Regions from separate parts of the Homo sapiens genome. Here regions 1, 2, 3, 4, 5 and 7 are each reported to be linked to region 6. The links are microRNA targets in miRTarBase. Many come from high-throughput screens and were not tested one by one. Region 6 holds a microRNA gene; each other region holds the end of a gene's coding sequence.

Region 1 (4,053 bases), not on the chromosome of region 6:
GTGGGGGAAGTGGTGGTTGGCATACACAGCCCTCCTACCCCTAAGGTCCTTCTGTGCACACTTTCCCTTACAGCATAGAATTCCGCAGGGCCGTCCAGGTGCTCAGACTGTCTTGAGGAGGCGTGTGGAGCCAGATTCTCAGTGGGCAAGTGGGAGGGCCACAAGTGGGAGGGCCACCGGAACAACAGAGGCCACAGGACACCTCGTAGAGGGCGCGTCCAGGTCTTTCTGTCAGTGGGCAAGTGGGAGGGCCACCGGAACAACAGGGGCCACAGGACACCTTGTAGAGGGCGCATCCAGGTCTTTCTGTCACTAGACTTCAGAGTCGCAAGACCTGAGTTCAAATCCTGGTTCTGCCATGGAGTAATCACAGAGAACTTGGTTAATCAGTCTCTTGGGAATTATCAAACCTTCACAGACAGGATCAAAAATAGGAGGGTCAACACTCTGGAAGACAAAGTGTTGTGTGCTTATAAGGGATTGTGACTGTTTGCTGGTGGGCATCCCGAGGGCCAGGCCCTGGGTGGAGGTCCTGGTGGCAGCAGGCAGTGAGTGGGCAGCCTGAGTTTGGGTGGGCAGAGCAGGGACGGTCACCTGGCTCTTGGTGACTCTGAGGGTGGACCACAGGCCGTCCGTCTGTTGACACTGGGATTATATGACGGCCTCCCTTTCCTAAGGTGGAATCCCCATCCTGACACCCTTCCCTTCTCCACAGATGGAGGAGATGAGACGGCCCGAAGTTCTCTCTGACCCCCACCTCGACTCGGCCTCTGCCAGCTGCCTTCCCTGCCAGAGAACAAAGGCTGAGATGGCAGTGCACACACCCTCCCCACCAGTGGGGACCTGAGAATGCGTGTGGCCTGCTGTCCTCGATAGACCGGAATGGGGTTTTCCCACAGATCCCCGCCTGTGGCACACCCCAGAGCCAGAAATCGAAGGTCACAGGAAGTTGTCACTGAACTTGGCCCGTGTCTGCTACTCTGTACCTTGCTGGTACAGACAGGGGTGGTGGGCAGCCAGGCTCTATGAGTGGGCCCCTAGTGTCAGCTCTGTACAGGGTCAGATCCCAGGTTCTATGACCAAATAAGTAACTTAAGTTTTGTGTGTTGGGTTCTAATTCCTTGTCCTAGAATCCCCATGACTCAATCAAGGACTGTGCTAAATGAGATTGTCCAGCCCCCGCCCTTGCACTGGACTACGCCAAAACCACACTGACCAGGCACTTGCCTTCCCTCTCTTCCCCCGTGTTGGTAAGAGAGAGGCCAGTTGTGATAGTGGCCAAGGAGAATCTAGGGCTGTATTGTTGTCCACTGCAGTAGGCACCGGCCACATGTGACTGCTGGCATGAAATAGAAGTGCAGTTCCTCCATCGCACTGGGTAAGGCCTCCAGTATTGGACAGCACACAGAAAGGTTTTCATCATCAAGAGAGTTCTGCTGGTCAGCCCTGCTCCAGGGGATGCCTCTGCCTTCGCATAGCACACTGCTTGAGGCCCTGCCAGGCACCAAGCACTGCCCTGGGCCCATGGGATAGAGCGGGGAAGGTGATGGCTCTTCCAGAGGATTCCCTCAGATGGGGAGGCAGCAGTATGAGCTCTGAGCAGAAGTGGGTATTGTTGATACAGAGGAAGTTCTTTGCCACGAGAACTTTCAAGCAGTGAAAGGAATTCCCATCAGGACTCAGACCCCAGGCCGAGATCTTGCCCTGAATGTACCCTGCCTCTGCTTTCTCCTGCATCCCATGCTAAGCAGGGTCATGGTCTGAACTACTCAGATTGGATTTCCAAACCATCCTTGTATAAACTGCTCAGAACTAGCATCTTGCTCCTTCTTACCCTCCTCCACCCTTGTCTGTGCTTTTGGGTTTTGCGCGTCACCTAGCTGTGGTGCTTGGCCTCCACCTTGCACATATCTGCAGTGAGGCTACATAAGAAGCGAACAAAACTATCAGCCACTGAGCTCCTTGGTGCCAGCTGTTTGTCTGCTGTGCTCTCAGACTGCACCAGGCCTGGAAGGTTCTCAAGCTCCAAAACTTTTGATGAGGAAACAACATAAGAAATGATTAGCCCATGCCCTCACATCTAGTAAGAGAAAGCTGGGATTAAACCAGGCCCTGCCCCAAAGCTTATTGTGCACTTTGTACCACATCCCTCCGTCCAGAGCTCAAGCTAGTTTGACAGTTCATGGGCCACCACGTCTGTCCATGACAGCTATTTCTGTATTTTTCTGGTGTAAGAGCCTTTTAGTCTTAGAGCACCAGTCTCCCTGTTCCCCTACCCCGCCCCACTGGGGAAGGGGTGATGGCAGCATCCTATTGCCTAGCTGCCTGTTTTCTATCTCCCCACCCATGTAGACTCTGTCCTGGTGGAAGCTAGGAGGTGGGTGCCAGCCAGCCCATCTGAGGCTGTCTGCAGCATAAAGCAGACTTTAGGGTGCTGGATGACCTGCAGTTCTTTAATGAGGGACCTAGACCCAGCCCAGATTTGGAGGAGGAGGGAGTCTAGCAGCTGTGGGCAGTGGCTGAGCCTGGCATGGCCTGGCCTGAGATGCCTCCAGGTGAATGGGGCCCCTATGTAGCCTTGGCCCCAGCCCAGGGGTGGGGTGCCCATACCACTCTGCCAGACCCCGGGCCCGCAGGGTGCTGGTGGTATGGTAGGTCTCATGGCTCTGGTTTCTGAGGGCCTGGGGTTGAAGCTGAAAGTAGGTGAGGGGTGTCCTGGGGCCCTCCCCCTTAACAGGGAAATAGGTATTCCAGATCCTCCAGCCTCCGCATCTCCTCCGGCCCGATGGACACGATCTTTTGCCGGGGTTCCTTGCGCCGCACGGTGATCTGGATGGGGTAGTTCTCAGGAAAGCTGCTGAAGTCAGTGGCCAGGGTTGCAAACTGAAGTGAAACAAGAAAACCCTTCAGAGTTCCTTCCCAGATCTGAACCTGGCTCTCTCTCTGTCTCTATCACCCCTTTTTTTTCTGTCTGCTGACTCAGACCTTAAACAGCCTTATCCAACCTAGCCATTGACGCAGGAAACAGGTGCAAAGATGCATGACTCAAGCCTGTACCTCCTCATTATGGGATATTTCCAACCAAAGGGCTGTCTGTACTCAGGCCTCTATACCCCCATACCCCTACCCCATACCCAGGCTGTTCCCTTCTTCGTCCCCCTTTAGCCTCTTGTCTTCCCTATTTCTTTCAATGCCCTTGACTTCCCAGCCTACTCACAATCATGGGCACTGAATTGCAGAGTCTAAAAACCAATGGCTTTGGAAGGGGAACATTATAGTGATGTTGAAAAATACATTCGTTTGCATTCCTAGTGGGCCCCAGAGTGGCTTAATCCTTAAACCTCCCAGAAGCATGCATTCTGGAATTGATGCTTCTTGACCCAGGCAGAAGGAAAGCTAGCCAGATGAGTCATGTGGGCATAGGGGTGTTCCCAACCTCCAAAGCCCTGGTTCCCTGGCTTTGGACTTCTCTCCACCCCCAAGGCCCCTCTTTTCCCAGGGCTCACTTTGTAGGGCTTGCACCACTTCCCCACCCCAGCTGTGTTGGCTGCACGGACACTGAGGCAGTAACACGTGTTAGGCTTTAGCTCCATCAGCTTGACAGTAGTGCCCAAAATCTTGTTGAAGATCCATGGACGATTCTTTGCCTCGGGCAACTCATTCTCCTGTGTCTTGGCCACCTCCTGTAACAGGAGCTGGTAGAAACTGACCGGCTGCTTGCCCAAGGCGTAGGTCCAGGAAATCTAGGGGAAGAGAGAGCCCCGAGGCTTCCTCAGATATGTCCTGTCCTTCCTGTCCCTTCACCCTCCCAACTGGGGTCAGGACGTCCCATGCCCATCCCCTGCTCCTGCTGGGGCCCAGGCAGGTCAGATGGAAGGTGCAAGGTACTGCAGCACTGAGTGTGGAACCCCTGCCCCGAAGCATGTACTACTCTCCTGGGCAGCCCCACCCACTTTAGGGTACACCCTCATTCCATATTTCTTATACGCCAGGGGTCCTCAACCCTTGGGCCACCAACTGATAGCAGTCCATGGCCTGTTAGGAACTGGATAG
Region 2 (4,054 bases), not on the chromosome of region 6:
GGTGAGACTAAGAATATAGCTTATGAACACATTCTGAGTCACTTGCATGAAGTCAGGCATAAAGGTGAGCCTTAAAAATCTATAGCAGGAAGTAAGATTAGACTTTCAAAAACTATCCTTAAAAGCCTTGGGATGAAGCAATTACATAGAGCCAAGGAATTTTGCTTCTGGGAGCCCTATCTAGGTAAGCTAGGGCACACTGAAAGGAAGATGAGTCCCAGTCTGTTCTCCCCAGATCAGAAGACCTCAGTGCCTCCCTTCAACCTAAGAGAGCTGCTCCCCAAACAGCTGGGGCAGTACTTCCGCTACAATGGCTCGCTCACAACTCCCCCTTGCTACCAGAGTGTGCTCTGGACAGTTTTTTATAGAAGGTCCCAGATTTCAATGGAACAGGTAAGTGGTGGAGAAACGAGGTGAGGTGAGACACAGTTGTAACTTCAGACCCCTTCCCACTCCCCAAAGTAACACCTCTCCCACGCTTCTGCTCCTCAGCTGGAAAAGCTTCAGGGGACATTGTTCTCCACAGAAGAGGAGCCCTCTAAGCTTCTGGTACAGAACTACCGAGCCCTTCAGCCTCTCAATCAGCGCATGGTCTTTGCTTCTTTCATCCAAGGTGATTCTGCACGGCTCAGAAGAGATGGGAAACTGAGGGGGACACAATGGCAGGAACTAGGGAGCCAATGGGAAGAAAAGGCTAAAAGGGGAGGGGGTTTCTGGGACTTGCTTGGACTGGGAACCAACCCCCACCCCAGGGTGCCCCCGGGGGATTCTCCCAGGCACAGCAGCAGAGAGTGCTGCTCCCAGCTGGGATGGGGATCTGAAGTCCCACTGACCCATTTTCTTCTCTTACAGCAGGATCCTCGTATACCACAGGTAAGCCAGCCTTATAAGATAATGCGGGGAGGGGAGGTGTCCTCACCGAGTGGGGGAAAGGCTCAAAATCTATGTTAGTCCTAGGCTGACACCTTTTACCTTTATCTCCCCCAGGTGAAATGCTGAGTCTAGGTGTAGGAATCTTGGTTGGCTGTCTCTGCCTTCTCCTGGCTGTTTATTTCATTGCTAGAAAGATTCGGTGAGGCCCTACTTTCCATTCCTCCAGTCCCTTCTTCTTTTTTTTTTTTTTTTTGGTAGGTGGGAGACGGAGTCTTGCTCTGTTACTCAGTCTGGAGTGCAGTGGTGTGCAATCTCAGCTCACTGCAACCTCTGCCTTCTGGGTTCAAGCAATTCTCCTGCCTCAGCCTCCCGAGTAGCTGGGACTACAGGCACGCACCATCACACCCAGCTAATTTTTGTACTTTTAGTAGAGACAAGGTTTCACCATATTGGCCAGGCTGGTCTCAAACTCCTGACCTCAGGCAATTCGCCTGCCTCAGCCTCCCAAAGTACTGGGATTATAGGCATGAGCCACCCGCTTTTTGAGACAGGTTCTCACTGTTGTCGAGGCTGGAGTGCATGGCTTTATCACAGCTCACTGCAACCTCCACCTCCCGGGCTCAAGTGGTCCTCCCACCTCAGCCTCCTGAGTAGGTGGGACTACAGGCATGTGCCACCATGCCCAGATAATTTTTGTATTTTTAGCAGAGACGGGTTTTCACTACATTGCCCAGGCTGGTCTCCAACTCCTGACCTCAAGTGATCCGCCCGCCTCAGCCTCCCAAAGTGCTGGGATTATAGGTGTGAAACACCTTGCCCAGCCCTCTTTTCTGTTAAAAAGCATTCTCCTATTTCACCTCTAATCTGCTTCACTTAGATAGCAGTCATTCTCATGAGCCATTCCCCTTTCCAGGAAGAAGAGGCTGGAAAACCGAAAGAGTGTGGTCTTCACCTCAGCACAAGCCACGACTGAGGCATAAATTCCTTCTCAGATACCATGGATGTGGATGACTTCCCTTCATGCCTATCAGGAAGCCTCTAAAATGGGGTGTAGGATCTGGCCAGAAACACTGTAGGAGTAGTAAGCAGATGTCCTCCTTCCCCTGGACATCTCCTAGAGAGGAATGGACCCAGGCTGTCATTCCAGGAAGAACTGCAGAGCCTTCAGCCTCTCCAAACATGTAGGAGGAAATGAGGAAATCGCTGTGTTGTTAATGCAGAGAACAAACTCTGTTTAGTTGCAGGGGAAGTTTGGGATATACCCCAAAGTCCTCTACCCCCTCACTTTTATGGCCCTTTCCCTAGATATACTGCGGGATCTCTCCTTAGGATAAAGAGTTGCTGTTGAAGTTGTATATTTTTGATCAATATATTTGGAAATTAAAGTTTCTGACTTTAATTCTGGCCTATCCTTTGAGGCTCTTGAGGGTGGGCAAGTTCCTGAATCCCTCAGGTGGTAAAGATGGGCAAAGGATGGGGAAAAGAAGCATGGGTGATTAACTCCTTTTATCCCACCCCTGGAAGGAAAGATAAGCTTCTGGGAAGACACTTAACCCAAAGTTTCAGACATGTTAAACCACTAGCCCAGATTTCTGCCCTTGCACCAAGGCTATGCTTGGAAATCAGTGGTTGCCAGGTTAGGAAAGTGGCTGGATGAGAGATCTGAGGACAGAAATCTCAATTAACATGCTATCCCCTCCCTTAAAAGCCAAGTTCCCCCACAATTACAAATTCTTTTTTATTAGTCAAAATCACAATCACCTTGATTAAAAGGATGGGACACTCCACCCTCAGCAGAAAATGATACAGTTTATAGAAAACCTCCCCGCCCCTCCCACACCCCAATTAAAAACTACAAAAAAATCTCCCCTCCTTCCCTACGATGTCATGGTAGTCTGACTCCTCCAGTGGCACTGCAGCTCTGGAGTGGCCAGCTCACCACAGCACCCTCCACTTCACCTTGGGGAGAGGAGGGATGCTGGTGGTTAAGGAGGTTAAAACCATTAGTTCCAGTAATGCCAGTTCCCAAACATGCACTTCCTTCCTTTCCCCCAAGGTCTGGGACCAAGGAGAAAGGGACCGAAATGAGCCCAGCCATGAGGAGCAACTCGAGGAGAGAAAATATAGCCCAAGGAGGTTAGAAGAGTTCCAATATACCTCCTCCCTCCCCCCACCTCAAAAAAGAAAAAAAGGCAGTTTAGGGTATTTATCACACCAAAAATGGTTCCCCCTCAGGCCTGAGAAAAAGACCAAGATGTCCAGTCTTGAGGGAGTACTGAGAAACTCAGAGCTCATCTATCCTTGAGCCTCCATTAATTTCATCTCCAGGGCAATGGCTAAACTAGGTCCCTTTTCTTGGCAACCTGCACTGTCCAGAACTGGAGATGGAGAAATACAGGGCGAGGACATCAGGAGGGCACCCCAGGCCCAGGGGTCCCCCCTAGGTTCCCTCAGTCCTCGGGTGGGATGCGCAGGGCAGAATACACCATCACCCGACTGTCCTCCTGCCGTCGGCCTGCAGAGGGGAAGGGAGGTGAGTCTTGGGCAGGGTGAGAGCAGAGCACTGACACAGGGGGAGTCCTGGACACAACAAGGGGGTCCCCAGGTGGTGGGGATAAGTGCAGATTCAAACCCACCAGTCACTGACTGGCTGAACCCAGGCTGCTCCTGGTAAAGCTTAGAGACTAACGGTCACAAAAGGACAAAGCAAAACCCTGGAGGTAGTGGGGTAGACCGACGAGAAGGAGACAGAGAATGTGGGCAATGGACCCGGGCTGGGGCTGGGCTCAGTCATGGGCAGTGGACAGGCAGGTGGGATCTGTCAGGCGATCAGTCCAGGTAGTCAGTCCTTACACAAGAGGCTGCGCTGAATACTTCGGAGGGACCCTCCAGCTGTGATGAAGGCCCAGAGCCCCATGGAAACAGTGACTGCATAGATGGGCAGCAGGCTGGCCTCATACCAGGGGTTCAGGAATGTCTAGGAAGGAGGGTAAGAGTAGGAAAGAGATTAGATTCTCCCTCGACCTAATCCCCATATTCTCTCTGTACCTTTCTGACTCCCAGATATCTCTCTCAAATTCTCCAGTCTTTCCCTTCAGAGCACCAACATCTTGTGGTTAAGGGGACTTTTGATTTTCAGCTCCTCAGAAACTCAAAGGTTTCTGCCGCTCCTGCTCACCTC
Region 3 (4,065 bases), not on the chromosome of region 6:
CTGTAGTTCCAGCTACTCAGGATGCTGGAGTAAGAGGATTACCTGAGACCAGGGGTTCAAGGCCACAGTAAGCTATAATCACACCACTGCACTCCAGCCTGGGTGACACAGCAAGACCCTGTCTTCAAAATAATAGCTAGAACAGGTAATCTCTCAAAAGCACAAAGTACCACTGAAACCTATTTAAAATTTCTCACATTTCTAAAGTGTGCAATGTACAAGGTCCTTATGCATATGATTATTTGATCATTATAACAGCCCTATGAGGCAGGGATAGATAGGGTTACCATGTACCTTGGGGAGAGGTGTGTTGAGGAAAGAGTATGGGCAAATATTTATATAAGCTCTCAGAAGAAGTTGGATTAACCAGCTATTCCCACTCTCTTCCAGCACAACATGCCTTTCTGGAGGATCACAAACCATGGAGACCTAGTATCCCTTCACCAGGCTTTAGAGCTTGATTTTCTCTAAGAACTGGAATGAGGAGCCTTCCCCTTGAGCTCCTTTTCACTCCTGAAGGGAGCTGGAGACTGGAACCAACTGAGAACTTTCTCTGTCTGTCTCTCTCTGTGTCTCTGTCTCTATCTCTCTCTCTTTCTCTCTTTCTCTCTCTCCCTCTCTCCCTCCCTCCCTTCCTCTCTCCCTCCCTCTCTGCCTCTCTCTCTCTCTCTCTCTCTGTCTTTATCCATGGAATGCTGGCGAGAACACAATCAGAACCAACAGCTGCAATTTTTGCTAAGAGTGAGCTGCAGCCCCGTGTTCATCTCCATACAGAAGCAGGGACAGTTGGATAGAGAGAACAATGGACTCACTGCAGCTACAGTGCTTTTAATTTTTCTGTGTTTTGTTTTTGTTTTTTTGTTTTCAAAAAATGAAAAAGAAAAGGAAATTCCTGGGGCAGAGTTGCACTCTTAGTCCATGACCAGATTGAGAATTACTGATAACTTGTGGTGATCAGATAAATGCAGCAGACTTTTATGATAACATCTCTTGCAGTCTTAGAGTCTCCTTAGCTTAGAATCTCACTTATTTCCAGCGAATGTGTATGTTATTTTTATAGGTAAGGGTCTGATCTTTGACGCAGGTTTCCCCCACTTTCTTTTTCTAGCAAGAAGGGGTGTTTAAAGTCTTGAAAATAGTAATTGAAATATCTAAAATACCTCCCTGTGGCAGTAGCACCTCTATAGCTGCTCCAGTGGTCTGCTCTCTAGGATGATACCTTTCCTGTTCTTCTATCTCCTAGCTGGTGAACTGTGGGGCACTGGACACTGAGTAACTTAAACTTTGGCATTTCCCATCTAGAAGCCTTAGTCTTCTTTCCAGTCCCTTTTCCCTTTAGTCAAATGGCACAACCCTAAAAACTCCTTCAGCTTGACTGTCATTCAGACTGTATCACAGGAGGCTTAGCTTCCAAACTGGAGAGAAGGAACTAAAGTGTCTTATGAATTTCAGCTTCTTGGCTCTTGAGACCGAAAGGTTCTACCTATTCCCCCTGCAGAGAAGCACCCATTTCCCATCAGATGCTCGTCCCTGCAGCTTCTTCCTTCTTGGTCATCATAATGCTAGGTTCTTACCCCTTTCCTGCCCTCTGCACCTCATGTCCACCTCCAGGCAGCTCTGGCCAGTCCCCGGGTATTAGACCCAAGAATTCAAATCAAATCTAAAAACATGCTTATAACTACATTTTGGCCAAAACTGCCAATGTATTTGACTTCCTTTGTGGAAGCCCTAAGCCATATGAAGGATGTCCCAGGTATGTATTTACCCAGATCTCTGCCTGAAACTGAAGAGCAGATTGCTGTATTTAAATTTTCCCATGGAAAACCCTGCTTCTCAAATCCCATTCTAAAGTAGGAAACCAGAAAGACTTTGCTGATTGTGGGGGGAAGGGAGAAACAGACAGGTTTTCACATTGTTGCCAAGGCTGGTCTTGAACACCTGGCCTCAAGCGATCCTCCCACCTCGGCCTCTCAAAGTGTTGGGATTGTAGGCATGAGCCACTGCACCCAGCCAGACTTTCCTGATTTAAATGAGAGTACTGCATCATTCCCTACTTCATGGCCCAAAACTTAATCCTGGGCCAAATGCAGGAGCATCTCTCGACCTCTGGGCAGATTGGTGGGTGCCCAGGCACTAGTCACAGCCTTCCAGCCCAGCCATGATTGTTGGATGCCCCATCCCTCCAAGAGCAATTTGGGCATCTACTCAGGCAGGATAAAATTCCCTAGAGCTGAGGAAGTTCAGCCTCTCCCAGGCTACACAGAGAGAGATGATACAAGCACCTCAGATTGAGATGCAGGATTGGTCCGCAGAAGGAGGCATTGTTGACCAACCCCAGCTATAATTGCTTGTCACCAGAGATTCTGCATACCCATTTCCAGAGATGTTGCAGCACAAAGAGGCAAGACTCCTTCCAATGCCAGGCCACCCAGATAGCAAGAGAGAGAGGCTGGTATACACATTCCTTCAGAACTCATTGAAAAGCGCTCATAACTCGTGATTTTAAGGAGTAAGTTTTTGCTGAGTAGCTGAAGTCAGTGCTCCTTTACTTAGCTGCCTCTTTGGCCTTGTTTCCTGTGGGGTTGGGAGGAGGGAGATGTAGTGTGAGGTAGGCCTTCCCTTGGTCTGTATTCAGCATAGTTGCCTAGATGCTGCTCTGCCTTGTTTGATGGTTGATCTTAGGAAGCTCTAGGTTTTACTCTGAGGCCTCAAACCCTCCCCCTATGCAGTATAGCTGTTGGGTTTTTGTCCTGGACAAAGGCCACGGCTGTTGTGCTGCGCTTCAGGTTTGTGAGGCTGCGGAGTGGTACCCCCACCATGCACGCAAGCACACACACACAGATACTTCCCTCTCCACCCTTTTGGGAGCTCTTTATTTTAGAATGTAACTTGAACTCACTTTTATCATTGGCCTTTTTCCTCTTACTCTGACTTCCTAGCTTAGCTCTTTCCAAAAGGAACTTGAACTTGGCCAAGAGAGGTAAGGAGGCTGAGCAGAGCAGTCTTTGCTCATTCCTGGTTGTTGCCACCCTCATTTAAATGGAAGAGAGAAAACAGGAGCTTCTTGGCTGTTTGCCAAAATGAATTGTCCAGGGAACACAGTGCTCTCTGTAATTACCCTGCCTTTTTCTCCACCCCAACACAAAAATCTGGAAAGGAAAATAAGTGGGTAGGATTAAGAGCTGTTAGAAGCTGAGGACCAAAGGACACTGTGGGTCCATTCATCAAGGGGGAGACCCTCTTCATTAGAGTCCTCATGAAATTAGCCAAATGATGAGTCCTTCCCTAGCTGGGCATGGTGGGTTCTCTTTTTTTTTTTTTTTTTTTTTTTGTTGTTGTTGTTGAGATGGAGTCTCGCTCTGTCACCCAGGCTGGAGTACAGTGGCATGATCTCGGCTCACTGCAACCTCCGCCTCCCAGGTTCAAGCGATTCTCCTACCTCAGCCTCCTGATTAGCTGAGATTACAGGCGCCCACCACCACGCCTGGCTAATTTTTGTATTTTTAGTAGAGATGGGGTTTCACCATGTTGACCAGGCTGTTCTCAAACTCCTGACCTCAGGTGATCTGCTCACCTTGGCCTCCCAAAGTGCTGGGATTACAGGCATGAGCCACCATGCCTGGCCAGGCACTGTGGGTTCTACAGGATGGGTCTGTAATGTCACGGTGAGGGCTCTCTCTAGTAGTAGATCTGGAGTGAGGTGTGTCTTGGGTTGAGGAGGTGGCTTGACTTTCGAATGTAAAACTGACTGTGCCTTAGCATCACCCTGTCCAGTGCCCCTGGGGCAGCTGGTAGTGTCCAGAAGAATGGACACCTGCTCCAGATTTAGATGCCCATCTGGGCTTTTGTTTGATTTGCGGCGTTCCTGTCTTCTGTAAAGCTAGTGAGTTGTCCCAAGAGACTGATGCCACAGCTTGTTCGCAGTTTACACAAACTCAGCTTTAAAATTCCAAATAGAATCTGACTTGCAAACTCTAGCTGCAGCATGTGGAGCTTCTAGATGTTTACTACCTTGAATGGTTGTCAGTGTCACTGAACCACAGGGGAGAGGAGTATGGGGTAGAG
Region 4 (4,065 bases), not on the chromosome of region 6:
AAACCCTTCAAATGTAGTGAATGTGGGAAGACCTTTGGCTATCGCTCACACCTGAATCAACATCAGAGAATTCATACCGGAGAAAAGCCCTATGAATGCATCAAATGTGGGAAGTTTTTTAGGACTGACTCACAACTTAATCGACATCATAGAATTCACACTGGAGAGAGACCATTTGAATGCAGTAAATGTGGGAAAGCCTTCAGTGATGCTTTAGTTCTAATTCACCATAAGAGAAGTCATGCAGGAGAGAAACCCTATGAATGTAACAAATGTGGAAAGGCCTTCAGTTGTGGCTCATATCTTAATCAACATCAAAGAATTCATACTGGAGAGAAACCCTATGAATGTAGTGAATGTGGGAAGGCTTTTCATCAGATCTTGTCCCTAAGACTACACCAGAGAATTCACGCTGGAGAAAAACCTTATAAATGTAACGAATGTGGGAATAATTTTAGCTGTGTCTCAGCCCTTAGACGACATCAGAGAATTCATAATAGAGAAACGCTCTGATTATAACAAGTATAGGAAAGAAAACATGTGGTTACCACTCAATCCTTATTAAATATTAGTGAGTTCTTTTTGGTTAGTAATTCTTTGAATGTAGTTCATATTTCAGTTCATGAGTATCCGTTATTTGAAGTAGCTCAGTAGTAGACATCTGTTACTTTTTTTTTTTTCAGACAGAGTCTCGCTCTGTTGCCCAGGCTGGAGTGCAGTGGTGTAATCTTGGCTCACTGCAGCCTCTGCCTCCTGGGTTCAAGCAATCCTCCTGCCTCAGCCTCCTGAGTAGCTGGGATTACAGGTGCCTGCCACCATACCTGGCTAATTTTTGTATTTTTAGTAGAGACGGGGTTTCACCACATTGGTCAGGCTGATCTCGAACTCCTGACTTTAGGTGATCCACACGCCTCAGACTCCCAAAGTGCTGGGATTATGGGCGTGAGCCACCGCGCCTGGCCACATCTGTTACTTTTTGATCTGTTCTATACCTGGCTTAGCCCACCCTCAATGCATATGATTCAGATGAAACTGTTAATCAGGGACAGCAGTGGACTGGTCACAGGCTGGCCAATTATTTCCCCCAACCTAGTGATAAGGGATTGGCAAATGGCCCTGTCTGGATCAATGAAGTCCTTTGCGGGTATTCCTATGGGCAGTAAGAGAGGTTTTATTCTGGAACTGCAAGTTTCAAGGATTTAATAAGATTAAAAACTCACCAGTAGCCTTTTTGCCACTCATGAGGAAAGCTTTCCCAAAGAGAAATCTAACAGAGGAAAATGGAGATGAGAGACAGAAATATGATGATACAGCTTGATCTCCTGGATCCAGTCATTCCTGACAGCTACACCATCACCATCCTTTTTCATTTTTTGTGATCCAATAAATTTCCTTTTTTTGCTTAATTTGGATTATATTTTTGCCTCATGGAATTAGAGTGCTGATTCACACATTCTATGTTTGCTATACATAAAAGAAAGCCTTAATTTTTTACGTGGCATAATTATTTATCCTGAGGAGCAACCTTCTGATATAACAAGTTTATGAAAGTTGAATACACAGCCTTCATAAAACTGAGATAATTGTTACATTTTATTTGTCGATAAAACTATTTTAGTGTTTCTTAGTTTTTTTCACATTATGGCTGAATATTTTAAAATTCACCAAGTAAAATTCTTTAACAGGCTTCCCCTTAAGGAGTTAAAATCATTTGTCACAGTGACTCACCATTTGCCTGTAAAGAGAGAATGGAAAGCTAAGAGAATAATACTTTCATTTGTTTAATGAATGGCTCTTCATCTTCAAGGAATTACTTGATTTTCTTCTTTCAGTATGGGTCTAAACATATTCTGTGGCAGAATATAATAACAATTAAATTGTAAATGAGGTCTTTTGTGGGTGGGCTCTAAATTTGGTTTAAGACCCAGTGCGGTGGCTCACGCCTGTAATCCGAGCACTTTGGGAGGCCGAGGTGGGCAGATCACCTGAGGTCAGGAGTTCGAGACCAGCCTGACCAACATGGAGAAACCCCGTCTCTACTAAAAATACAAAATTAGCCGGGTGTGGTGGTGCGTGCTTGTAATCCCAGCTACTCAGGAGGGTGAGGCAGGAGAATCACTTGAACCTGGGAAGTGGAGGTTACAGTGAGCGAAGATCGCGCCATTGTACTCCAGCCTGGGCAACAAGAGCGAAACTCCTTCTCAAAAAAAAAAAAAAAAAAAAAATAAATAAATAAATAAATAAATAAATTTGGTTTAAGAAGTGTATGGATAACTTCTTTGCAGCTAGAGATATCAAACAAAGATATTGCTGGCAGAAAGAATGAGTCATTTTTAACAAATGGTAAAAGTAAAGCAGTTAATGCCTAAAATTTTTAGAGACTAAATCATTTCCATTATTGGGAGTAATGAGGAAGATGAAGGTGTAGGGCAATACGTTTCTTTTTTATCTGAGTGGATATAGGGAAATAAACTGGTGATATGGCAGCTGGGCCATCTTGAATAGTGAGAACCAGTAAGAATATTGGGTATTGCCTGAAGAGCATCTGTAAAAACATATCAGAACAAATGAAAGAGGAAAGAATGAAGGATTTATATGTGTGCATAGAGTGAATATATGTGTGCATAGAGTGAAATATTCAACTTATACTTATTTCTAATAAAATCTGAAAATTATTTTTCATAAATATTCAAATTCCCTTTAAACAGCTTAAAATACAGATTTAGTGACTCAGTACTTCAAACCTTGAATAGAAACAAATATGATTATAAAATATTTCCAAACTTATGTTACATCTAATCTGAAACATATTAATATTATAAGCTTAATTCATGTCATCATTTCTTTATTTTTTATTATATTTCCTGGAGGTATAAGGATATTTATTTTTATAATTTCCAAGCACTGAGTAATAATTTATTTCAGAAAGTTTCAGAAGGTTACAGTAAACTTTACCAAACTTGAAGAAGAATGACTCAGATCAGTAAGAAGAGTCTGAGTTACTCACTAATTGATTTTTATTTTATTTATTTATTTTTTTTGAGACAGGGTCTCACTCTGTTATCCAGGCTGGAATGCGGTGACACAATCATGGCTCACTGCAGCCTCAACTTCCCAGGCTCAAGCGACCCTCCCACCTCAGCCTCCTGAGTAGCTGGGACTACAGGTGTGCTCTACCACACCTGGCTAAGTTTCGCGTTTTTCTGTAGAGATGGGGTTTCGCGAGTTGCCCAGGCTGGTCTCCAACTCTTGGCCTGAAGTGATTTGCCCATCTCGGCTTCCCAAAGTGCTGAGATTATAGGGATGAGTCACTGTGCACAGCTACTAATTGATTTTTGATCTATGTATGGCACCTGATTTCATCCTCGAGAGTGACGTAAACCTAAGCTACTGGTTCATTCTCTGTTTATATAGTTAAACTTCACTTGTAATGTTGATAAAATCTTTTGTACCCATGTGTTTAGCTTCAGTGTATTTTACAATCTGATGTTTCTCCTCACAATGAAGTACTAAATTTTGTTTCTTTTCAACTGTACAACCCATTGTCTTGTGATATATTGACCTGATCTCTTAGGATTAGTGAAAATTTATGCTTTATTAATATTTGATTGTTATTAGGACCATCTAGAGATTTCTGTTTATGTGTGTGTATGTGCATCTGAAGATGTGTATTTTATTTAAATTTTTTGTATTAAGTGCCTACTGTGTGCCAGGCTTTGTTCTAATCTAAGCAATGGAGATACAGCAGTGAACCAAACAGACAAGAATTCCTGCCTTCAGAGAGCTAATTTCTAATAAGGAAGACAATGAAAAAGATATGTAAGTAAAATATATAATATGTAAGAAAGTAAATTCCAAGGTGAAAAAGATGAAAAAAGGGATGGGGAGCCAGGGAAGGCCCTTCTGAAGTTAACTTTTGAGTGAAGACCTAAAAGAGAAATATCTATCTATCTGTCTATCTACCTATCTCTATCTATCTATCTATCTATCTATCTATCTATCTATCTATCTATCTATCTATCTATCTATCTACTCATCCATCCATCTATCCAAACTACATATATA
Region 5 (4,058 bases), not on the chromosome of region 6:
GAACGGCAAGGATGCAAGTGAAGACAGTGCGCAGAGCGGGAGCGAGGGGGGCAGCGGCCATGCCAGCGCCCACTACATGTACCGGCAGGAGGGCTACGAGACGGTGTCCTACGGGGACAACTTGTATGTGTGCATTCCCTGCGCCAAGGGCTTCCCCAGCTCTGAGCAGCTCAATGCGCACGTGGAGACTCACACGGAGGAAGAGCTGTTCATCAAGGAAGAGGGGGCCTACGAGACAGGCAGTGGGGGTGCCGAGGAGGAGGCCGAGGACCTGTCAGCACCCAGTGCGGCCTACACGGCTGAGCCCCGGCCCTTCAAGTGTTCGGTCTGCGAGAAGACCTACAAGGACCCAGCCACGCTGCGGCAGCACGAGAAGACGCACTGGCTGACACGGCCCTTCCCCTGCAACATCTGTGGCAAAATGTTCACGCAGCGCGGCACCATGACGCGTCACATGCGGAGCCACCTGGGCCTGAAGCCCTTCGCCTGCGATGAGTGTGGCATGCGCTTCACCCGTCAGTACCGCCTCACGGAGCACATGCGTGTGCACTCGGGCGAGAAACCTTACGAGTGCCAGCTGTGCGGGGGCAAGTTCACCCAGCAGCGCAACCTCATCAGCCACCTGCGCATGCACACCTCCCCCTCCTAGAAGCCAAAGACCCGCGGGCGCCCTCTGCCACCTTGCTCCCCGGGAACCCATGGAAGGAGAAGCGAGGTGATGCAGCAGCAGGGGCAAGACCCTGGGTCCAGTGGAGGCTCCGGGTGGCCCCTCTGGCCCCCACTGCCCACACCCAGAGCTTTAATGGACAGTCCGTACCAAGCAGAGCCGAGAGGAGGGAAGCCAGGGGTCCCAGCCCGTCTACCTCCCCATCCCACCCAGGCCCCCAGCTCCCCGCGGGGGCCACCGCAGGGCCTGTGGGCTGGGTCACGTGGGTCTCGCTGGGACCTGGTCCCTTTGTTGCAGGCGGCTTGGAGAAAGGGCAGTGGGACGCTGGCCACGGCCAGGGTGGTGTCGGGAGCAGGCCTCACCCCGCTGGCCGTGTCTGTGTGTGTGCACGTGTGCTTGTGTCTGTGCGGGCGCGTGCAGCCCTGGTTCTGCAGGGAACAGGTGCTGGGGGTGCAGATCCCTCCCTCCTTGAGCCAGGGTGGCACTGTTCACTGGCGCTGGGACAGTCAGGGTGACCCCACCGCCTACCTCTCTACATCTAAAGAGCCCTCTGGGCCTGTGTTGCTGTTATTCCTACTGATCTGTTCCTCTGTTTTTCTTTTTGATTTTTGTTTTTTAAACCAAAACAGACAATAGCTTATTTTCTTTCCGCCCCCTCCGGGGCTGAGCCTGGGTCTGAAGACTGAATGTAACAGGGGCCGCTGGCACTCCTGCGCGTCCCCCGGCTCTGGCGCTGCAGGGGTGTCGGCGCGCCACCTCTCCAGGCCCCAGAAGCCCTTCTTGCCCAAAGGCTTCCCTGGTCCCTGAGCCCTGCCTCGGCTGCCTCAGGGGAGAGTGCTTTTCCTGTAGTTTCCAAGGAATATTCTTTGTTTAGAGGTACTTGTTTTTTATTAAGAGAAAAACCAGTGTAACGTTTATGTGACTGTTTGAACTGGAAGGTCTGGGGTTCCGGGGGGTGGGGGGAGGCTAGACTCAATGCCGGGGCCGTCGGTACTCTTGTTTTCATTTGTGTGTGCGTGCGTGTGTGTGTGTGTATGTGCGTATGTGTGTGTCTATGTGTGGTGTGTGCCGTATGCATGGGCAGATGTTTCGCTTTCCCTCCTTCCTCGCTGAACAAGGTGGAGACTTCTGACCTTTTGCTACCTCTTGAATTCATGACAACGATATGTTGGTGACTGGCAGTGGAAGCCCTTGACACTCTTGTTTTCCTTCGCTTAGCACCTAGGAAGTCGTGTGCAGGAGCCAGCAGGGCGCCAAGTGGCCCAGTGCCTGCAGCTCACCTGTGGGTTTTCCCTTTGAGCCTTTGGCCACATCCACCTCGAGGGGACCCTGGCACCCCGGGCACACAAACCTCTGTGGTATAGGTGAGGGGTGTGAGGCCCCAGCCTGGAGCCAGGCACTGGGTGCTGACAGGGGAACCATGAGGAGGGTGGCAGGTCTTTGCAGCTCCCGGCCAGGGTGAGGCGGAAGTGAGCCCTCATCCTGCCACTCCTATCCTCCATTCCTGCAAGAGTTTTAAGCTTGAGAGAGCTGACCACAGGGCCCCCCGGGGAACAGGGATGGCACTTCCCTGAGCAGTCCTGGCCCCCGGCCACTGTCTCGGGGCCCACCTCTCGCCCCTCATCTTGGTAATTAGCCAGCCTCAGATACTTCTGTGGGCCCTGAAGTGGGCTCTCAAGGTCAGACCAAGGTTGCTGATCTCAGTCCCACTGTCTTCAGCCAGCTGAAGCTGTGGGGCTGGGCTGGCAGCCTTTATTGTCATCTTGCTTCACCATTTTTTTTTCTCTCTCTTTTCATTCTATTTTAAGTTTAGACCAAAAAAATACAGAGTCATCCCCTACCCCCACCCCTCTAGAGACCCTCCAGCTAAAAACAGAGCCTGAGTTCAGGGACCCAAGTGGTGAGCGGCGTCTTTTGGGGGTGAGGGAGCTTGGGTAGATGAGGCTCCTGGCTGAGCCCTCCCTGTGGTGATCCCAGCCTAAGATGGCCCCTCTTCCCTCCTGGTGGGAGACAGAGGACTGGACCCTGGGTCTCAGGTTCCAGCAAGTCAGGCTAGGGACCTGGGGGGAGGAGACCCATGGACTTCACCCATACTCAGTGAGGGGGCTCCTGCCGTCCTGACGCCACCCCGCCCCATCAGCACTTAAGCCACATGACACAAAGTCTGTACCGCACGGGAAATGTTCACGCGCCTGGCCGTGTGCATGGCCTCCCGGGCTGTGGGCAGCCGCATCTGTGAGGTGACTCGTGAAAGTAGGTGATTCCTTTGCAGAACTTCAGGGACTGGGAGCAGAGGCCCCTCACTCAACGACGTTTGTGCGACATAGTATTGTATCCACCTTAGTATTGTATCGAGCCTTTTCTGTGTTTTAATGAGAAAGCAGAACACTAGTTTCCTATTTAAGACTTTAAGGGTTTGTGGGGCGGGGCGGGATTAACACAACATTTGGCTTTGTTTTCTTTTTCCTTTGATTTCCACATCAGGTGTGTGCGAGTGTGTGTGTGTGGAGATGTTAAGAGCCTCACAAGGAAACTGGGTTATTGGAGGCCAAGGCGGCTTACAGTTCTCTGCGTTCGTCACTTAATTCCTGAATGTTTCAGAGAAACAGGAATCAGAAAATAGCAGATATCATGTAGGAAAGAGAGGATAAACAAAGAAAAAAGAAAAAAAAATAAGCTCATACCCAAATTCACAAAGCCTATTTTTTAAACCAAAGCACATTTTGAATGAGTATGGAACCTCCATGGGCTCAGAAAAAAGATGCTAATATATTTATCTCATTGTTTACATAAGCTTTTACAGTTTCAGACCTCAGCAGCTGTAAGGCCAGTCCAGGGAACCCTCCCCTGCTGCTGGAAACCCTTCTGAGTTGGCCCTGGAGTGGCTCACGGGCAGAGAAGGGTAGCCCTGGGGCTGGGGGAGGGATTGGAAGCCTCCCTGGAGTCACCTGAGCCCTCGTCCCCATTCCCAGGGCCCCTCCAAGCCCAGCTGGCACCAAAGAGCTTGGGCCCGTGCTGACCAGCCCCCAAGGCCCTCTGGCCGGACCATGCTGGTCCTGACCAGCTAGCCTACGCGGGGATGGCCGTCAGTTCTGGCCACAGGACCCGAGTCTGGGCTTGGGTCCCCCTGCTGCTCTGCCCGTGACCCTTGGGGATGGGTTGATGCGAGGGTCCCACTCAAGCCAAAAAGCCGGGACCTTTGCGCAGCTCTGTCGACTCTGGTGGGTCCCCACTCCTGGGGCCCCCTAACCCCACCCCAGGCAGCGGAAGGGGCTGACTGGGTCTGGTCCTTACCAACATAGACGGTGCAAACACTCTTAACAGTGTTGTTTTTGTATCAATATGTTTGTGCAGTGATGAATGTATTTATTTCTCAGACTTGGGGCGAGTG
Region 6 (4,065 bases):
AGACATTCTTGGTTGTCATGACCTGGAAGATGCTGCTGGCATCTGGTGTGTGGAGGCCCAGGATCCTGCTAAATATCTTATAATGTGTATGGCAGCCCTACACCCCAACACCTAAATACGCAAACCAAAATCCCAGTGGTACTGAGGCTGAGAAACCCTGCTCTCTGGAGACATTTTTACATGTCTGTGATTTACTAACAAAAATCCCACTGCTCGTATTTGTAGAAATGATTCCGTCGAACTGTTCTATCAGTCCTTGGTCAGAACAAGGATAAAGAAGGAAGTTGGTGGGGCGTGGTGGCTCAAGCCTGTAATCCCAGCACTTTGGGAGGCTGAGGTGGGTGGATCACTTGAGGTCAGGAGTTTGAGACCAGCCTGGGCCAACATGGCAAAACCCCGTTTCTACTAAAAATACAAAAATTAGCTGTGCCTGGTGGCATGCACCTGTGTTCCCAGCTACTCGGGAGGCTGAGGCAGGAGAATTGCTCGAACCCAGGGTTGCAGGGGTGGTGGAGGTTGCAGTGAGCCCAGATCGTGCCACCACACTCCAGCCTGGGCGATAGAGCAAGATTCTGTCTCCAAAAAAAAAGAGGAAGTCATCATTTCCCTAGTTGGATGTTGTTTTCCAGATCGGAACTTCCATGTTGTAACTCCAGTCTCTTTTCTCCTTCTGACCTTGCAGGTTCATCTGCAGAAGCCAGCGGACGCCTCTGTTCAACTTGTGGGTTACCTGGCTCATGAGACCTTGCCGGCGAGGCTCGGCGCTTGAACGTCTGTGACCCAGCCCTCACCGTCCCGGTACTTGTATGTGTTGGTGGGAGTTTGGAGCTCGTTGGAGCTATCGTTTCCGTGGAAATTTTGAGCCATTTCGAATCACTTAAAGGAGTGGACATTGCTAGCAATGAGCTCCCAAAGCCATCCAGGTAAGGCCGGGTCATTTCTTCTCTGGGCACACAGCGGGGCTTTCTTTGCCCAAAGTAGAAGTTCTTGTGACTGCAGCTTGCTTTCTGGATTTGAGACTTTTGTTTTTCTTGATAGTGGTCACTGTTGGTTTTTGACAGCACAAAGTGCAAAATGGATGGTTTATTCTTCCTCTTGGTGAAAGAAGAATGATAAAACCTGGGAGGATGTGGAGTCAAGTCTGCGACCCCGGTTTGCAGGCTGACTTGAGAGGCACACAGGTTTCCTCGATGCTTTTTGACAAGGGTGATGTTGAAAGGTCAGGTTGTGATGTGGAGAGCTGGTTTCTTGCCCAGTGTCTTTGTTGTTTCATGAGGGGTTGTGTGAGGGGTGGGAGTGCTCCTCCAACTGGGCGTCTGGGCTGTCTGGGAAGAAGCTCATGTTCCCACTGAGGTCGTGGCCACAGTTGCTCCTGGTGTTTGAGGGCCTCTGTGAGGGGCTGCACTAAGCATTTTACAAGCATTTAGTACAGCCCCAGATCATCTCAGGCCTGGAGGGAAGAAGTAATTTGCCTGAGGTCACAGAGCTGGTAGGTGGGGGACCCACATGATTGGGAAGCAAGCTTGTCCTGCTCTGAGCTTCAGAAGCATGTCATGGGCCCATCCATTTACGACTTCACACTTTCTGTCCTTGGAAAGTCACCGAGAGCGTGCACCATAATGAAACCTCGAGGCCTGCCGCCGACCTGCCTGAGTGTGGGGCTCCTGCAGAGCCAGTCCTGTGCTGCCCAGCTTCCTGCCACTTCCAGCGCACCGTGGCCTTCAAGGGCACTTAGCCATCGACTTCTGTCTTGCGTCCACATGAGAGAGAAGACGGTGGCCACTGGACAGACGCTTGGACAGGCACCTGAGGCTCTGTTAGCCTTGGCTCTGGGTCCTGCTCCTTAGAGCAGAGGCAGAGAGGCTCAGGGTCTGTCTGGGTCACTCTCTTTGAGATTGCCGGAACGCTTACACACATCTTTCCCTGGGTGGAATCGTCTTTGTCTGAAAATTCCAGAGGGCAAGATTCCAGGTTTTTTTAGATATGAAAGTTTTATTGAGTTAAATTGTTTATGTATTGACTGATGTAAAGAAATGGTTTATGATCATTCCAAGACAAAATTAAGCGCTATGGCTCAAAGTGTCTAAATAGACATTGAATGGAGCTGGCTCTCTCCCTCCTACACTGGGCTGCTGTTGGGTGAGAGTGTATCTTTTTTCTGTGTCTAAACATAGTGTGATGTGTGTGAGCATTTTCATAGAGTATAATTCTATAGGCAGGGCCCTGTGTTTTACATTCTGTCCATTTTAATGTGTTATAAGCATCTTTTGGTATCAGTATGTGTGCAAATATAACTTGCTCTTTTGATACCTTGCGAATGGATATTTATGTGGTTGTAGCAGTGTTTATACCAATTCCAAATTGGCATCAAACAATTATTATACATATATTTTGTAAACTTCTAAGTATCACTACTAGACAAATTCCAGGAAGTGGAAGCTGGGTCAGTGAGCCCGTGCACTTAAAACATCATTAGGTTGACTGTCAAATTGCTCCAGAAGCCTCGTTCCAACTGATCTTCCTAATTCCAGTGTAAGAGGATGCATATTTTTCATTTGTGCTGTACCAGCACTGGGTAGGTTCAGTCTCTCTCATTTTTGTCAGTGTGCTATGGGAAAATTATTGTTTGAGTACACTTGATTATTTTAATGGGGGTGCATATTTTTGTATGACTTGGTGTACACATAATCATAATTTGTACATGCTCTGCAGGCATTTGAAGAGAAAGTATGCTCTTAGGATTTTGTTTCAGTCTAAAGACGTCTGTATGTATGTATCAATATTGTATTTAAAGTTCTCGGCCGGGCGCAGAGGCCCACAGCTGTAATCCCAGCACTTCGGAAGGTCAGGGTGGGCAGATCACAAGGTCAAGAGATTGAGACCATTCTGACCAACATAGTGAAACCCCATCTCTACTAAAAATACAAAAATTAGCTGGGCGTGGTGGCGTGTGCCTGTAGTCCCAGCTACCCAGGAGGCTCAGGCAGGATAATCGCTTGAACCTGGGAGGCAGAGGTTGCAGTGAGCTGAGATTGCGCCACTGTACTTCAGCCTGGCGACAGAGCAAGACTCCGTCTCAAAAAAAAAAGTTCTCTCATTTATATATATTTTATTTATATATAGGAGGATATGTATCCTTTCTTTATATGTTGTTTTAATTATATATTAACTCAGTTGAGTTATTTAAATCAGTATAGCTTTACTTATTTTTTTCTGTCTGCTCGATTTCTTGGAAAAGTGTATTTTTCTACTGTGATTATAGTCTTATAATATTCTTTTTACATTAATAACCATTTTTTGCTTTATATAGTTCAGTGTTTTTTTTTAAAGCTTAAAAATTAATGACTGTTCTTTTGGTAGATCAGGTCTCTTATCAAAATATAATATATTTCTCTTTGTTTAATGTTTCTTTGACCGAGAGCTTATAGTGTTTCATGAGGTATTTCTACCCTTGGTTTCTTTTGGCTAACAAATATTTCTCCATCCGCTTGTCTCTAACCTTTTCAGGCCGGGTTCTTTGAGGCTCAGCTCTGGAAACCGCGGGGTGCTGGGTTTGTTTGGCCTTTTCTGTGGGAATTTCAGCCGCTGCGGTTCAGTTTGATCACCGGCCTGCCCGGGCCTGTCCTGCCCATGTGAGTTGGGTTGTGTGCGCCTTATTGCCACCCACGACCTCTCCATTCTCTCTCTCAGTGGGTTGGAGGCTGAAGACAGGCCGCACTGGTGAGGGCAGGGCTGCCCCTTGGCCCAGCCCATTCTCTGCTCTCCATCTGTGCAGGGGGTACAGCTGAGGTGGTTTGCCTGGGGCCTGAAGTCTGCTGGCTGCCTCCTCTGCCCTGTCCGCTGTCATCTTTCCCTGCCGTGTCTGCCCTTCCGCCCGGAGGTCCCTTGGGAGGCAGGACCCCTTGTGCCCAACACGTGCATACCACCACCTGCACACACTGGCTGGTGGCCCAGCGGCCTCTGCCCACGTCTCAGGCGGGGGATGGGGCTTGCCCAGAACCGTGCCCTCCCTCCTGGGCGAGGCCCACTCGCTTGTGTGCCTTCCCAAGCAGCTCCATCCCCAGA
Region 7 (4,065 bases), not on the chromosome of region 6:
TCTCTGTCTTTAATCTTAAAAACAGCCAATACTATCCCAGGAGAGTTTTCAGCAACAGAGTTGGAAAGTGATGATATGATCAGTTCAGGAGGATTGTCATTGGAATCTAATACTTTTATCAAAACTGTACATCTTGCAGAAAGGCCTCCGCCGTCCATTGCCTGTATATTTATTTTGTAAGAATTTACTAACTCATAATCAAGCAATTCTCTGAGAAAGATTTCCCCAGAAAAAGGATTGATTTGAAACGTTGTTAAAATATCTTCAGAAGCATCAAAAAATGAATAGGATACTTCTGCATTGACTCCTGAGTCTGCATCTCCTGCAGACACTTTAACAATAAGGGACCCTACTGGACTGTTTTCTGGAGCCTGGGTCTCATACAGAGCCTGGGCAAACTGTGGGACATTGTCATTGACATCCAAGACCACAATGCGTATAGTGGAGGTCCCAGACCTGGATGGAGACCCACCATCCAGCGCTGTGAGGGTTAAGCTGAGCTCTTCCTGCTCCTCCCGATCCAGTGCTTTGTCCAACACTAGCTCTGGATATATCATGCCTTCATCACTGCCACTAATTTTAATATGGAAAAAAGAGTTGGAGCTGATCGTGTAGTTTTGGATACTGTTATGACCTTCATCTGGATCCTGTGCTCTTTCTAGTCTAAATGCTGTCCCTTCAGCTGTATTTTCTGATATTTTTAAGACCATCTCTTTGTGCCGAAACACTGGCGAGTGATCATTTATATCCCTGACTCTCAGCTCAGCCCGGTAAATCTGAAAGGGATCATCCATTAAAATTTGGAAATACAGCATACAGGGCTCTTTAGGGCCACACAGCTTCTCTCGGTCCAGTTTCTCATTTGTGAGCAAATTCCCGGTATGTGAATCCAGGAGCAGGTATTGTTTGTTATCATCGGAAACCACCCTGGTTCCCCTTGCAGCCAGCTCCCCCTCTGCTAGTCCCAGATCCTTTGCCAGATTGACCACAAAGGATCCTTTCTCTGTTTCCTCAGTCACCGAATAACGTCCAAACCCAGAACCTGCCAAGGACACTCCCCAGAAAAGAAAAAGAAACAGGACTTGCCTTTGTCTTGGAAAGCTGAACCCCCTGGTCTTCATAGCTGCTTCTTTCCTCAATGTCAGTCTCAATCACACTGCCCCAGCACAAATAGCAATCGCAAACCCAGACTTATGTGTACCAGAGATCTAGGGTTTTTAATTTTTCCTTTCCCAATCAGGGACTCGACAGCTCTTCTTCTCAGCCCATCTGTCTCAGTGTTTCCTTTTTGTCAAGGACTTCCGTAGCATTCTGGTCAATTTTGTTCCTCCGTCTCTTCAGTCTGCAGCGCCACCTTGTGGCTTCCAACACAGTCAAATGGCTGTGCCCAATTTTTGTGTTTATTTAAAAATTCTTCATTGCTTCATGAGAAAAGATAAAAATTGAACAGTTGAAAAAATGTTTCTAGCAGTAACCCTGTTCAACTCTGTGTTAGATTTAGCTGTGTTAGGCCTTTCGCCTCTGACACAACTCTTACGCAAACAAAGGGAAAATTGTGGGTGCCTTCTGGAACCACCAAAATAATCAATTTCACTGTCTCAAAAGCTTTGGGCATAGGAACACCAAAAATTAACAACAATAAAAAAAACTTGTTTCACATCTTCTTCAACAAATGTCTTCAAGATCTCAGATTGCCTAACTAGAATCACCGCTCTGTAGTCCAGAACCAAGCATTAGGCTGTCTTTCCATTGTGCTTCTCTAAAACTTACGCATACAACTATGTTTACTCTATAAATATTATTGCTTCTTGTTTCAGGCCAGTTTGCCCCTTCATCAATGTGTGAACTACTTGAGAACAACTATGTCTTAGTCATCTTTGGTTGGCAAATTAGCCACTCACTAAATGCTGGCTATATTAAGGCATGCATAAATAAACTAGTGAGTAGGACATGAAACAAAATTCAGTGCCTTTCGATCTCTGCCATTTGAAAATTGTTTTCTTTAATTTACTCATACTTTGCAATTTGTTTTTTTTTTTTCTTAGATTAGCTTTAAAGTAACTTGCAGAATTAAAGAAGGGACTGACCTTTATTTTCAAGTCCCTTTTAGTGGAAATCTAGTAGGCCCTAATTTCTCTGAACCAAATAAGCGGAGGTAAAGAACAGATCAAACTAACACCTATCCTAACACTATTGAAAGTGAAAACAAATTATTAAATCTGACTCACATAGAATTTTATTCAAAGGCCTAATATCTAGAAAGAAGCTCAACTTTACATATAATAAGCAAGAAATACAGATTAAACATAGGGATATTTTACAGAGAAAGGGCTAGATACCGCCAATGTATACTATGATGAATATAAAAGCCAAACCATGTAAATGTCTCTTTGATAAGTTTTTTTTCCAACTTAATGAGATTGAGTTGTTAGCCATTAAAAATATAACAGGGACCTCTGATTTTTTAATTCAGTAATAGAAAGAATAAATTATTAAATATTTTTACATAATACCTTTGCCTTTTGTCTACAAACACAAACACATTTACACATACTGAATGTCTTACAATGGCTTCTCTTTTTATTTTTAGATAAGGCTGGTTAAAGATTTCTCATATCACTTACAATAGGAATATTTTATTTTATTTAAGGAGATACCAATACAGGGAAAATAGAACTTTTTTTTTAAAGGTAACTTTACGAGACTCCATCTCAAAAAAATAAATAAATAAAACTTTGGATGGGCACATTGGCTTATGCCTGTAATCCCAGAATTTTGGGAGGCTGAGGAGGGAGGATGGCTTGAGCCCAGGAGTTCAAGATCAGCCTGGGCAACTTGGCAAAATCCCATCGCTGCAAAAGATTAGCCAGGCATGGTGGCATGCACCTATAGTCCAAGCTACTTGGGAGGCTGAGGTGGAAGGATCCGTTGGGCCCAGGAGGCAGAGGTTGCAGTGAGCCAAGATTGTACCACTGCACTCCAGCCTGGGTGACAAGAGTAAGACCCTGTCTCAAAAAGGAAAAAAAAAAAAAGAAAGAAAAGAAAAGAAAGAAAGAAACTTTAAGAAAAGTATTATAATGAAAATTGAGCCCAACAAAAATACCAATTTTGAAAGGAAAATAGACAAAAGAAATGTAACATAGGAAATATGCCTAATACATGCAACAGGTTATTTTAATACTTGAAGTTCTAGGAAACTGAGAAGTAACATGAAAAATGGAGCAAAAAATGAATAGGAAGTAAATAAAATATAAAGACGGAAAAATTTTAAATGACATCAACTTTGAAGATAAAGTATATTTTGTTAATTGGGATTCTATATGCAACACCTCTTCGGGGTAAATATGAGGAAAAGGGAAACTGGAATTAACAATATAATTTGAACTAACAATCAGAGAAAAATACCTTATTGGTGGTGGTGAGCATGAACAATTTAATCAACAAGACAATCATAAGAAGTTAAGGAATTTATCAAATGGGTTCCTATCAATAATTAAATCCAAAGCTATTGTGAAGGGTGGAATTTTAATCTATTTCTTTCCTAGTGCCCTAAGGAGAGAAGTTGGGGATAATCGGCTTCAGGAACTTGAACTCACTTGTTTCTGAGCCTCCTGTCAGACACACCTCGTATTGGTAGCTCTGGGACAGGGTCCCGGTGCCGCTTACGTCCACCAGACGCCCTGGAAAGGGGCCCTCAGGCATCGAGCAGCGGCCCACCGAGGCCGCCCTGCTCCTCCTGCACAGCCGCACCGCCACGAACAGGAGCACCGAAAAGAGGAAGAGCGACGACACCGAGGCCAACGCCACCACCAGGTAGACAGTGAGCGAGTTGGCCTGGGTCTGGCCGGGGGCCGCCTCTGGGAGCGGCAGGAAGGGCTGGGAGAAGCCGTCCACCAGGAGCACGTGCAGCGTGGCGGTGGCCGAGCGCGGAGGCTCGCCATTGTCCTTGACCAGCACCACCAGCCTCTGCTTGGCTGCGTCGCGCTCGCTCAGCAGCCTGGCGGTGCGCACCTCGCCATTGTGCGCCCACACACCGAACAGCCCGGGCTCCGTGGCCTTGAGCAG

What was found. The annotated mature microRNA hsa-miR-2467-3p reads AGCAGAGGCAGAGAGGCUCAGG and lies in region 6 at 1,848-1,869, shown strand. An mRNA with a match to its seed (bases 2 to 7 or 8) in the 3' UTR can be bound and repressed. Matches are read on the target gene's strand: a 7mer-m8 pairs with bases 2 to 8, a 7mer-A1 pairs with bases 2 to 7 and ends in A, and an 8mer does both.
Region 1: miRTarBase lists NLE1 as a target of hsa-miR-2467-3p. Seed matches in the 3' UTR shown: 7mer-m8 at 768-774, 7mer-m8 at 1,462-1,468 and 7mer-m8 at 1,719-1,725.
Region 2: miRTarBase lists APH1A as a target of hsa-miR-2467-3p. The part of its 3' UTR that is shown has no 7-base or 8-base seed match.
Region 3: the mRNA of EYA3 is a reported target of hsa-miR-2467-3p. Seed matches in the 3' UTR shown: 8mer at 1,586-1,593.
Region 4: the mRNA of ZNF527 is a reported target of hsa-miR-2467-3p. Seed matches in the 3' UTR shown: 7mer-m8 at 744-750.
Region 5: the mRNA of HIC2 is a reported target of hsa-miR-2467-3p. Seed matches in the 3' UTR shown: 7mer-m8 at 671-677.
Region 7: the mRNA of PCDHB16 is a reported target of hsa-miR-2467-3p. Seed matches in the 3' UTR shown: 7mer-m8 at 2,942-2,948.

What each region holds. Positions count from the first base shown.
Region 1 is chr17:35,129,112-35,133,164 of GRCh38, reverse strand. It overlaps NLE1 (notchless homolog 1), which reads left to right. Exons shown (of 13, transcript NM_018096.5): 13 at 716-4,053. The coding sequence ends at 728. FNDC8 (fibronectin type III domain containing 8) reads right to left here. Exons shown (of 4, transcript NM_017559.4): 3 at 3,507-3,743; 4 at 2,433-2,883. The coding sequence ends at 2,731. Among named protein-coding and RNA genes, the nearest start is that of FNDC8, 9.5 kb to the right of the region's middle.
Region 2 is chr1:150,262,807-150,266,860 of GRCh38, forward strand. APH1A (aph-1A gamma-secretase subunit) reads right to left here. Exons shown (of 7, transcript NM_001077628.3): 6 at 3,727-3,850; 7 at 2,598-3,388. The coding sequence ends at 3,324. It overlaps CA14 (carbonic anhydrase 14), which reads left to right. Exons shown (of 11, transcript NM_012113.3): 6 at 1-64; 7 at 236-393; 8 at 493-613; 9 at 853-873; 10 at 988-1,072; 11 at 1,787-2,272. The coding sequence ends at 1,853. Among named protein-coding and RNA genes, the nearest start is that of SNORD13C, 3.1 kb to the left of the region's middle.
Region 3 is chr1:27,970,872-27,974,936 of GRCh38, reverse strand. It overlaps EYA3 (EYA transcriptional coactivator and phosphatase 3), which reads left to right. Exons shown (of 18, transcript NM_001990.4): 18 at 391-4,065. The coding sequence ends at 471. Among named protein-coding and RNA genes, the nearest start is that of XKR8, 13 kb to the right of the region's middle.
Region 4 is chr19:37,389,367-37,393,431 of GRCh38, forward strand. It overlaps ZNF527 (zinc finger protein 527), which reads left to right. Exons shown (of 5, transcript NM_032453.2): 5 at 1-3,700. The coding sequence ends at 513. Among named protein-coding and RNA genes, the nearest start is that of ZNF527, 20 kb to the left of the region's middle.
Region 5 is chr22:21,446,095-21,450,152 of GRCh38, forward strand. It overlaps HIC2 (HIC ZBTB transcriptional repressor 2), which reads left to right. Exons shown (of 3, transcript NM_015094.3): 3 at 1-4,058. The coding sequence ends at 649. Among named protein-coding and RNA genes, the nearest start is that of TMEM191C, 19 kb to the right of the region's middle. RefSeq lists an enhancer at 3,272-3,825.
Region 6 is chr2:239,349,536-239,353,600 of GRCh38, reverse strand. MIR2467 (microRNA 2467) reads left to right here and starts at 1,797; the gene lies at 1,797-1,877. It overlaps HDAC4 (histone deacetylase 4), which reads left to right. Exons shown (of 27, transcript NM_001378414.1): 2 at 683-923. The coding sequence starts at 902. RefSeq lists a silencer at 941-1,134.
Region 7 is chr5:141,184,375-141,188,439 of GRCh38, reverse strand. It overlaps PCDHB16 (protocadherin beta 16), which reads right to left. Exons shown (of 1, transcript NM_020957.4): 1 at 2,214-4,065. The coding sequence ends at 3,550. PCDHB9 (protocadherin beta 9) reads right to left here and starts at 1,279. Exons shown (of 1, transcript NM_019119.5): 1 at 1-1,279. The coding sequence starts at 1,121. It also overlaps PCDHB@.